Regions from separate parts of the Homo sapiens genome. Here region 2 is linked to region 1. The links come from fine-mapping of genetic effects on gene expression. A gene starts in region 1. The other region holds a variant in brackets. All regions are shown on one strand. Distances are between the middles of the regions. Region 1 holds the start of GPIHBP1 (glycosylphosphatidylinositol anchored high density lipoprotein binding protein 1). Region 2 has its middle 21 kb from the start of LY6H.

The links. PIP is the estimated chance that this variant, and not a neighbour inherited with it, causes the effect.
Region 2: its variant is the best candidate, but not a certain one, in a credible set for the expression of GPIHBP1 in prefrontal cortex (CommonMind, PIP 0.66).

The regions. Positions count from the first base shown.
Region 1 is chr8:143,210,734-143,216,104 of GRCh38, forward strand. GPIHBP1 (glycosylphosphatidylinositol anchored high density lipoprotein binding protein 1) reads left to right here and starts at 2,485. Exons shown (of 4, transcript NM_178172.6): 1 at 2,485-2,586; 2 at 3,089-3,217; 3 at 4,280-4,393; 4 at 4,526-5,371. The coding sequence starts at 2,535. The coding sequence ends at 4,785.
Region 2 is chr8:143,178,143-143,183,513 of GRCh38, forward strand. No RefSeq gene overlaps it. Among named protein-coding and RNA genes, the nearest start is that of LY6H, 21 kb to the left of the region's middle. The variant G/A (reference allele first, on the strand shown) is at 2,848.

The sequences.
Region 1 (5,371 bases):
TGTCTGAGAGGTCATGACCTTGCCCTGGGGGCTTGAGGGAGGCTGCGTGGTGCCTGGGTGGGATGAGGGGGTGGGCTCCACATACAGAGCCCACCACGCCTACCTGCCGGCTGTAGGCAGTGCTGGGGAACCAGGTGTCTGCCACTGCGGGTCCCCTTTCACACCTGCGCACCATCCCAGGTGGCACCTTCTGTAGGGGCTGGACCAGACCCACTAGCCTTTCCGGGGCGGGACAGAGGGAACAGCCTCTCAGTGGCGAGCACTAAATTTAATTCAATCTGCGAATCAAATGTGCTCTGATTGTCCCTAGGTGATTCTCGCAATAAGCACTTGCCTGGGCTGGGCAGTTTGCACCTGGGCTGAAGAGGAGCTGGGCCCAGAGGGAGGCAACGTGCAAGGGCCTGGGCCCCTGTGGAGGGGAGGCGGCAGGTGGAGGCCCCTTGAGAATCCCAGTAGCGCCCTTCCTAGGAGCAGCTCCTGCAGCACTAGATTCAAGGGCCTGTAGCGGTAGCCGGGGCGGGGCGCGGGGGAGGTAGGGCAGCAGGAAAGCGGGGCACCAGGGAAGAGGGGCGACAGGGAGGCGGGGCGTGGGGGAGGAGGGGTGAAGATGACGGGAGGCGGTGCACGGGGGAGGCGGGGCACAGGAGAGGCGGGTCGACAGGGAGGTGGGACGCTGGGGAGAAGGGGCGAATGGGGGCGGGGCGATGGGGAGGCGGGGCGACGGGAAGTAGGGGCAGTGGGGGAGGCGGGGCATGGGGTAGACAGGTGTGGGGGAGGCGGGGCACCAGGGAAGCGGGGCGTGGGGGGAGGCGGGGCGTGAGAGAGGCGGGGCAGTGGGGGAGGCGGGGCGTGGGGGGAGGCGGGGCAGTGGGGGAGGCGGGGCAGTGGGGGAGGCGGGGCGTGGGGGGAGGCGGGGCAGTGGGGGAGGCGGGGCAGTGGGGGAGGCGGGGCAGTGGGGGAGGCGGGGCGTGGGGGAGGCGGGCCGAGGGCGAGAGGGCGCAGGGAGGCGGGTGGGGGTGGGGCCACGCGCGGAGGGGCAGGGAAGGGCGGGGCGGGGCGGGGCGGGACGGGGCTGGGGGGGACAGGCATCAGGTATGAAGAGTTTGGGGCTGGCGGGGCGTGTCCGGCTGTGGCGTGGGCACCACTATGGGAGACCCTGGCTTGGCAAGTGACCTTGCAGCCTTGGCTGGGGAAGGGCTAGATGCTGGGTGGGTGCCGGTAGAGTGGAAAGAATGACAGGTTCAGGTGAATTAAGGAAGGATGGTTGACTCGGTGGCTGGGACATTAGAGACAGGTATTCCCAGCCTCAGGCGCTGTCCTAAGCCCAGCAGGTACTGACCCTTGATGGTCACCTCACCCTATGAGGGAGCTGAGGCCTGGGGAACCCAAGGGGCTAGTCCAGAACCCACAGCCGGGGGAAGGAGGAACCGGGTCTTAAACCCAGGTAGCTCACTCCAGAACCAACTCAACCTCTGTTACAGGTGGCCGGCCAGAAAATGCCCCACCCCACCCATTGACAGTCGGGGAAACTGAGGCCTCAGTAGGTGAAGTGCCTGGCCCAAGCACCAAGGCACACAGAGACGCTCAGGCTTGACCCTGGCTCCGGACGTCCAGCCCCTGCCGCTGCCCCACCCCTCTGCTGCCCTTGGGAGAGGGGCAGCTCAGAGCCTCGACTCTGCACTCTGCATCAGCACCCCCCAAGGGCTTGGGTGGGGTCTTGAGAGGAGGGGGTGGCCTCAGGGAGCGACCTGGGCTTTCCAAGCCTCTCCCAGAGCAGCCCGTCTCTCACACAAGGCCAGAAGGCAGGTGGGTGCTGATGGCTTTCCCAGCAAGAGACCGAGGGGGCGGGCCCCCAAGAGCTCCAGAAAGCTCTCCACCGGACACCAGCAGGAACAGCACTGCAGATGGAGCAGCAGGGGCAAAGACCCGAGGTGATAGTGAGGGGCAGCCGGGAGGCCTTGGGCCTAGCAGTGCATTGCTGAGTGTGGGTGAGGAGGAGGTGAGCACGCAGCCTTAGCTTGAGGGCATTGACTGTGTTTTTACTTAAATGCTCTTAAAGGGGCCTGGGTGTGATGCTGACTCTAGGATGACGATGCTTGGCCAGTGACCAGCAAATAGAGGGTCTGTGACCCCAAGGTCCTGTGACTATGGAGCCCAGACATGGGGTTGAGGGGTGTCAGGCATGGCCCATTCCGGGGCGAGGCTCCCTGCCCTGCACTGCAGGGCTGAGGCACTGAGCGGCAAGCCAGGCGAGGGCCAGCACCACCTTCCACCTGCCGTGGCACGGGTGCACAGGACGTTCCAAGGCCAACCACAATGACTTCTCCTTCCCCTCTGGCCCCAGATGTCCTGGAGGGAAACAACAGTCCCTGGCCTGGCGCCTGGAGCTGGGGACCAGTGTGAGGCCCATTGTTTGAGGCTGGAGCTGGTGGGGGCCACTAGGAAGCCCACGGCAATGCCCTTCATCCCACTTACCGCAGCTCCAGAGCCCTGCGGGAGGACTCAGAGTCAGGGACACAGCAGCGTCCGGCGAGATGAAGGCGCTCGGGGCTGTCCTGCTTGCCCTCTTGCTGTTCGGGCGGCCAGGTGCGGGGCAAAGGGTAACCCTGCGGTGAGGGGGCAGCAACAGCAGTCCTGGAGCACAGGGACCTCCAGGGACCCCCAGCAGGGGCTTAGGAAGAAGGAGGGGATGAGGCTGGAGTCCCCAGCCCAGAGCAGCATGGATGGAAGCTGGCCTGGGTCCCCGAGAGTCCCCAAATATCTGCGCCCCTGTTTATGTGGGGTGCGGGGAGGGGCTACCATAAAGGGCCAGCCCACAGCAGCTGCTGTTGTAACTACAATGCCAGGGCACACTCGGCTGCAGGACAGTGAGTAGGGTGAGTAGGGTAGTAGGACAGTGAGTAGGGTGAGTAGGCTGCAGGACAGTGAGTAGGGTGAGTAGGGTGTTCAGGGTAGGGGCCCTCCCCAGCCACCCTGGGGCCCGAGGATGGCTGGGGAGGGCCAAGGAGTTGGGGGCACGATGCTTGCCCAGAGCAGGTGTCCTCCATACCCGGGTAGCTGAGGCTTACAAGCATCCCTGCACGGCCAGGGAGAGGGCAGACACAGCAGGAGGAAGAGGAAGAGGACGAGGACCACGGGCCAGATGACTACGACGAGGAAGATGAGGATGAGGTGGAAGAGGAGGAGACCAACAGGCTCCCTGGTGGCAGGAGCAGAGGTATGGCCGCCCCAACCCCAGAGCCCTGCTGCCTGATCTGCCTGGAGCATTCTGGGCGGGGCTGTGTGATGGAAGCCAGCAGGCCACAGTCCTGCTGTGAGCTTGCCTCCAGCAGAGTGGGGGACACTCAGTACACCCCTCACTGCTGCTCACCATGACACTCAGTTGCCTTCCAGAGTAGGGAACAGGGGAAGAAGCCACCAGCTGGGAGGGTCAGTGGTGCCAGGATGTAGAGGTTAAATAGGAGTTCACCAGGCAGAGAAGGGCTCAGTGGGGGCCTAGGGTGGAGACACAAGCACAGAGGCCCCAGGGTAGGGTTCAGTTTTGTGGGGCAGAGAGAGCAGCAGGGTGGGCCGGTCCTGTACAGGGGAGGGCTGGATTGGCTGCTGCGGGCTGGGGAGCCAGGGAACCGCTTAGAGCAGAGCAGAGTAGGGCTAAGAAGAGCCCACCCTCACTGCCCACCTGACACACCCCTACACGTGGGCCACCCTCTGCTCTCTCCCATCCCGAGAAAAGCAGAGCAAATCGCCGCATCCAACCCGAGGGCCGGCCCCTCCCTAGCCAGGGACCACAGCGTGCCCCACCACACACAGCCCCTCCCTAGCCAGGGCCCCCAGCATGCCCCACCACACACAGCCCACCCCCCTCCCAGGAGCCCCAAGCCTGCCCTCAGCACGAGCCCTGCCCCACACACCCACGAGGTGTCCCCTGTGAGGCCCTCCTCTGCCAGGCCTGGTGCTCCTGGAGGCAGGACTGAGTCAGACCCACCTCCAGGTTTCTGTGACCACGGCAGGAGCCTGGGCAGCATTGTCGCAGGACGTGAGTGATGATGGGAAGTTCGCCCTGCCTGACCCGCAATCCCTTGCCCCCTAAACACACAGGCTCACGCACACAGCACAGCTTACAGGACCAAGTCAGGGGTCGCCCGCCCATCTGAGCAGTGGGTGCTGGAGGCTCACCAGGCTAGGCTTTGGGAGCACAGCTGAGAACGGGGAGGTGGACAGGGACGTGGGAGGAGACCCTGGGGGGCCCGGCCTCGGCCTGAGCCCGCCTTGTCCCCAGTGCTGCTGCGGTGCTACACCTGCAAGTCCCTGCCCAGGGACGAGCGCTGCAACCTGACGCAGAACTGCTCACATGGCCAGACCTGCACAACCCTCATTGCCCACGGGAACACCGGTAAGTGGGCGTGGGGCCGCAGCACATGCACCCCCAGGCGGCGGGAAAGCCAGGGGCCCGGAACAGAGCCCTGCAGAGCCACCTCAGAGACCCCGCCCATCCTCAGCACTTGTTCCCCACTCCCCTTCCCAGAGTCAGGCCTCCTGACCACCCACTCCACGTGGTGCACAGACAGCTGCCAGCCCATCACCAAGACGGTGGAGGGGACCCAGGTGACCATGACCTGCTGCCAGTCCAGCCTGTGCAATGTCCCACCCTGGCAAAGCTCCCGAGTCCAGGACCCAACAGGCAAGGGGGCAGGCGGCCCCCGGGGCAGCTCCGAAACTGTGGGCGCAGCCCTCCTGCTCAACCTCCTTGCCGGCCTTGGAGCAATGGGGGCCAGGAGACCCTGACCCACGGCCCCTCCCCACCCCCACCCGGCTCACCCCCGGCCCTGCCAGCACTCTGTCTGGTACCTTCCCCTCCTGCCCCTGCACCAGCTTTGGAGAATGGATTTGGAGTGTCTTGGGCGATCCAGCCAGCGCAGGCCCCCCGGCCCGGTTGCTTCCTCAGTTCCCGGCTGTGTCCTTGGTGTCCTTTCTCCACCACCTGTGAGCAGCAAGACTGCCGCACGTGGGCGCTGGGTCCAGACCTCGGCTGCCACGCCCCAGGACCTGCAGCCCTCATGGGGGCTGGGGATCCCCATCAGCACAGCCAGGCAGAGATGATACCCACCACACACCTGGGGGCCCCCACACCCAGTCCTCACCCTTAACTTCTGCCATGGGAATTCCTCCATCTGCAGCGGTCACACGGGCCCACCCTGCCCTTCCCCAGGTCGGCCTCTCCGCTGTCTGGAGGGAAGGGGATTTGGAGGGAGGCTGTCGTCGCCCCCAGGAAAGACGGGCCTGGGGGAGGCGGGACAGTGGGAGAGGCGCGCTGAGGATGAGAGGGCACAGGGAGGTGGGTTGGGGTGAGGCCACATGCGGAGGGGCGGGG
Region 2 (5,371 bases), 33 kb before region 1:
CCATAGTTCCCTCTGAGAGAAAAGGGGTCTTGGACGAGGGGGTCATTGCCAGGGTCTGGCTCAGTCTTAGGACTTTCTTTCCGAGGGCCAGTGTTAGGAGCTTTACAGATTGAAGCATTCTGATACAAAGCCATAAAGGCTTCACTGTATGGTATTTCTGACCATTTACCCTGCCTTTTGCAAAGTAAGTATAATTGTAGGTTAGTATTACGATGTAGCCTTCAATGGTCTGGCCATTGCACCTGACTGTCTAGCTGATATTGTGGCCAAGTAGTATTAAAATAAAAAACTCAAGCATTTTCTTCTCAGATTGTCAGGGTCAAATTGATTTCAATGGTTGAGGGTGCAGCCAGGCAGGGAATCAGGTGGAATAGATGGGGTGGGTCCCATAGCAGTCTGGGAGAGAAACGAGACCCTAAGGAGGACTTATCTGTGGACCCGAAATTTCCGCCTGGGGCGTCCCCCTGGGGAAGTCTCAGGTTTAGCCTTGCATCCCAAGGCCCCCCCTTCAGGGTCCACTCTTACAGTGTCAGGCGTCTCTGACCTCAGGTGGGCACCAGTGCCGCTTTGGATGTTTTCTCTCCACAGCCAGTGGCCCACTGTGATTCCCTTTGTACCTGGATATAATCCCTGGCTTTTCACGTCCCACCAATTTAGATGGACCATGTCTTCCTGCATTCTTCACAGGGTTATGGTAGGCCCTTTACTTCCAGCTCTTCATTTGTTCCAGGATGAAACTCAAAAATCCTAATATTAATAACATTAAGGCTGGTGGGGTATTTCTTGTAGCCAGCGACACCAGAGGGTGGTATATGAATCCCTGTGGCTGGTAATTTACTTTGCGGTCTGAACAGGAGAAATACTGTTTGAGCAGGAACCACCAAGACGTGGGGTTTTCCCTAAGCTCGTCCTTTTCTGCACTTTCCGTGCATAAACAAAAGGGGCATGAGATGGTGATGGGGGCTCAAATGCAACAGTTTAGCAATCCCTGGTCCCGACAAAGCATTAGCAAGGCGAGGGGAGAAATTAGAAGATGAAGAATTAAATCATCTCAAAGACATTATTGCTGCACATACACAAACCCGACTGTTGCACGGATTTGTCTTGCTCTCGGCAGGACCTAGGTGTCCTGTTCCATGACCGAGTTATCCGGTTACTAGAGACTTCAAGCGGCAGGCACCCTACTGGCTTTTAACTGCCTAACCCATGCCCGCAGATCGCGGCTTTGACAAAAGAAGATAAAAAAGAAGAAGGAAAGGAAATCTAAACCCCAGACAACAGGGCTTACCTCCTGGCTGGCTCTCCAAAATATGTTACCAGATAGAAACTCTTGGCTGTATGCTGTCTAGGCTCTTTGTACAAAGAATTAAACAAAACGTACAAACAAAGCAATAAAAGAACGAAGCATCAAAAAAAAAAAACAACGAAAAGTGCAGATTCACTGAAGCGAAATTGCACTCCACAGAGCAGGAGAGGCTCGAGCAAGCAGCTCAAGAGCCCCGACTGCAGTGTTCTCTAGGGTTCTTATGAAGCTGAAAGAATCTGGTAACACCCCTAGGTGCCCTTTAGAGGCCTCCAGTGGGTTACAATATATGAAGGATTGGCGTGTGACCAGTCAGAGGCTGAGGTGGAAACTCGGCCTGCAGTCAATCAGAGGCTGAGGTGGAAACTCGGCCTGCAGTCAGTCAGAGGCTGAGGTGGAAACTCGGCCTGCAGTCAATCAGAGGCTGAGGTGGAAACTTCTGTCTTGTCATCACAGGACTGAGGATGTGGCCTGTATGCCGCCTCGTCCTGTCTAGAACTGGCCGCACCTGCTGTTCCCTTGCTTCTGCCTTAACCCTTGGTTGCCCTAATTCCATACTGTCCTGCCTCAGGTCGTCTGCAGCTCTGTTCTTTCAGTGGTGATGGTACTTAGATCTCATAATGTAGATACAGGTGTGCTCATTGCTATGGGGTTTGCATTGCCTCTATGTCTCTGCAGTTAGCAAAGTTAGGATGTAAGTATCCTTTTCTTTATTATTTTTTAAATCAGGGTCTCCCTCTATCACACGAATTGGAGTGCAATGGCACAATCACAGTTCACTGTAGCCTTGACTTCCCATGCTCAAGCGATTCTCCCACCTCCGCTCCCGCAACCCCTGCCCCATCACCACCACCAGCAGCAGCAGCAGCAGTGGTAGCTGGAACCACAGGTGTGCCACCACACTGGCGTTTTTTCGTAGACATGGTGTCTCACCATGTTGCCAAGGCTGAGTATCCTTTTTAAAAAAGGAAACAAATCACATGTTTGCCCTCTTTCCAATTCAAAACCAGGATTTCAGGGCTTTTATTTAACTTGATTTTTTAAAACTGTATCTCTTCATTTTTATGCTGAAAAACTTTGTTTTTAAGAATATTCACATATTCGCTTTATCCTATAACATAATAGTTTCAAAATAAAAAGGCTAGCATTATTACAAAGAAGAAGGTTATGAACTAAGAACAAGACTTCTTTGCAGCTCCTTCTGTCCTGGGAGTGTGTCCCACCAGGATGTATCTTCAAAGTGCAGTGTTCTGAGGCTGCTGGAATAATTGCCTTTTCTGTAAAATTAACTTACCAACTTGATATACAGTTTGAGGTTCCTTTGTTTCCATTTATTCTCGGTTTCTGGGGATTTTTATTTAGTATTTTTATTGCATGCAGAAAACTACATACACACTATTACAAAACCAAGGCTTTGATTTTGACTTTTTGAGAAGGTGCATTCTGAGAAATCTCCCTTTTTTTCCTGTCCCCCTACCCCCACCCTGTTCTCTCCTCTCACCTATAATCTTGTCATTGTTTCTTTTTTGCAAATATATAAAAGA[G/A]TTGTTTGTATTTACATTCTTCCCCTTACACAAAAGGTGGCATCCCCACGGATCCCCACGGATCCTCACAGATACCCACAGACACCCACAGATCCCCACAGATCCCCACGGATCCCCACAGATCCCCCACCGATCCCCACGGATCTCCATGGATATCCACAGATTTTTTTCCCCCACAGATCTCCGTGGATATCCACAGATCCCCCGCAGATCTCCACAGATCTCCACGGATACCCACAGATTCCCCACGGATCCCCATGGATATCCACAGATCCCCAAGGATACCCATGGCGCCGTTCTTCCCTAGACTTTCACATGGATTCATGCAGCCTGGAGAAGGCTTCCTATCAGTGCTTAGGGACCGGGCTCACTCTTTCCCGCAGCTGCGTGGTCCCCCTGGGGGATGTGCACCAGTGCACTGGGACAGCCGTGCAGTGATGGGCAGTCGGGAGGCTCCCAACCCCTGCTATTTCAAATAGCGCCCCATCGAGAAGCTCCACACTGCGGCATTTTGTGTGTCGGGGCTACGCCTCTGGGATGGAATCCTGGGAGCGGGTGGAAGGCTAACCCAGACACGGTCTTGCAGGGCACTGACAGATTCCTCTCCATTCCCGCAGCCGTGCCTGCGCGGGCGTTTCTTCACAGCCTCACCCCAGGGCAGGCCTGGTGACCCGCCGAGACTGCTGGATTTTGCCAATATGAGGGGTGAGAAAAGACATCTCAGTGCAATTTTAATTGGCGTTTTTCTGACTATGAAGGTGGTTGAGCCTCTTTTCGTGCAGTTAAAGAGACATTTGTAAGAATTTTTCTGTAAACTGTTCATGTTTTCTGAATTTTTCTAATTTTCCCCTAGATTTTTAGGAACTCTTTTTAAATGCGCAGAAATCAGCCCTTTGGCTCGTACGCTTCCACTTCCCTCCCAGTGTGTCATTTGTCTTTTGACCTCCTTTCTTCCTTCTTTTCTTTTGCCCTCCCTCCCTTTCTCTCTCTCTCTCTCTGTGTCTCTCTGTCTCTCTGTGTATGTGTCTCTCTTTGTGTGTGTCTCTGTGTGTGTATGTCTGTGTGTGTGTCTCTCTCTTTGTGTGTGTCTGTGTGTTTGTGTGTCTCTGTGTCTCCATGTGTGTCTGTGTCTGTGTGTGTCTCTCTCTGTGTGTGTATGTCTCTGTGTGTGTGTGTCTGTGTGTGTGTGTGTCTCTGTCTCCCCCTTTCCTCCTTTGTTCCTGTTGCCCTCAGCATGCGTGTCTCCCCTCCTACTCGCATCAGCCACACAGGGCTCCCTTCCTGTGCAGGGCACAGCTTGCTGCAGGTGTACATGCTGTGGGTTGGGGACACTCTGGGGACTGAGGCTCTTCCCCTTGTGTGGCGTCCTTGGCCTCTGATGTTCTTCTCAGAAGTGCTGCAGGCCCTGTAACATGTTTGGACTGGTCACCTCCCCACCTCACTACTACCAAAGGGAGCATGTCTGTGTGTGTGCGTGTGTGTGCATGTATGTGCATGTGAGCATGTCTGTGTGTGCATGTGTGCGTGTGTGCATGTGTGCACTATGCACATGTAAGCATTCTGTGTGTGCATGTGTGTGCACATGCGTGCGTGTGTGTGTGTGCATGTGAGTGTGTCTGGGTGTGCATGTATGTGTGTGCCTGTGTGTGCATGCATGTGCATGTGAGGGTGTGTGTGTGTGTGTGTGTGTCTGTGTGTGTGCATGTGAGCATGTCTGTGTGTGTGGATGTGTGCATGTGTGCCCATGCATGTGCATGTGTGTGCATGTGTGCACGTGTGCGTGTACATGCATTGCATAAGTGTGTGCATGTGAGCAAGTGTGTGCGTGTGAGTGTGTGCATGTGTGTGTGGTCTGCAGACTCTGAGGCCAAAGGCTCCTCTGCAGATGAGGAAGAGTGGCTAGTGAAATTTCAGGGACTGCCCTGGGGGCTCCTGTTCACCCGCTGAGCTATGGGGGCCCCCAGACCCTCAAGTTCCTGCCCCTTCTCAGCCCTCCCTCTCCAGCCTCAGTCGAGCCTGGGAGCCTGGACAGCCTTGGCCTGGGTCTGCAGTCTGCGGTTTCTTCCCAGGAAGTGAAGTGTCCCTAGTTCCCTGAGCCCCCTCCCCATCTCCCACCTCCTGGCCCCAGGCTCTGTGTTTGCTCCTGTGACATCACGCCCCGCCCCCAGCTCCGGCTCCCCGGGTGTGCGTGTTCAGTACCGGCCTGCACGCAGCTGAGCTCAGTCGGTGTCTGCGGAGGAGGGGGCTGGACTCAGGGGCTCCCTGACAGACGCTGCAGGTGCCAGGTCTGGGGCATTAGGACCCTTCCAAGGAGAAATGGTGTGGGGAGGGCCGAGCTTGTGAGGGAGCCCTGGGGGCCGAGCGGCGGTGGTGGGGAGCAGGTGTTGGGGGGTCTGGTCTGGGTCTCCCTGTGGTCTTCTGTTCTTCCGGAGATCAGACTTCCTGCAAGGACTGGCAGCCCCGCCATACCCAGAGGCTGAGTGAGCTGGCTGAGAGGGCCGGGTGGGAGGTGACGCTCAGCCTC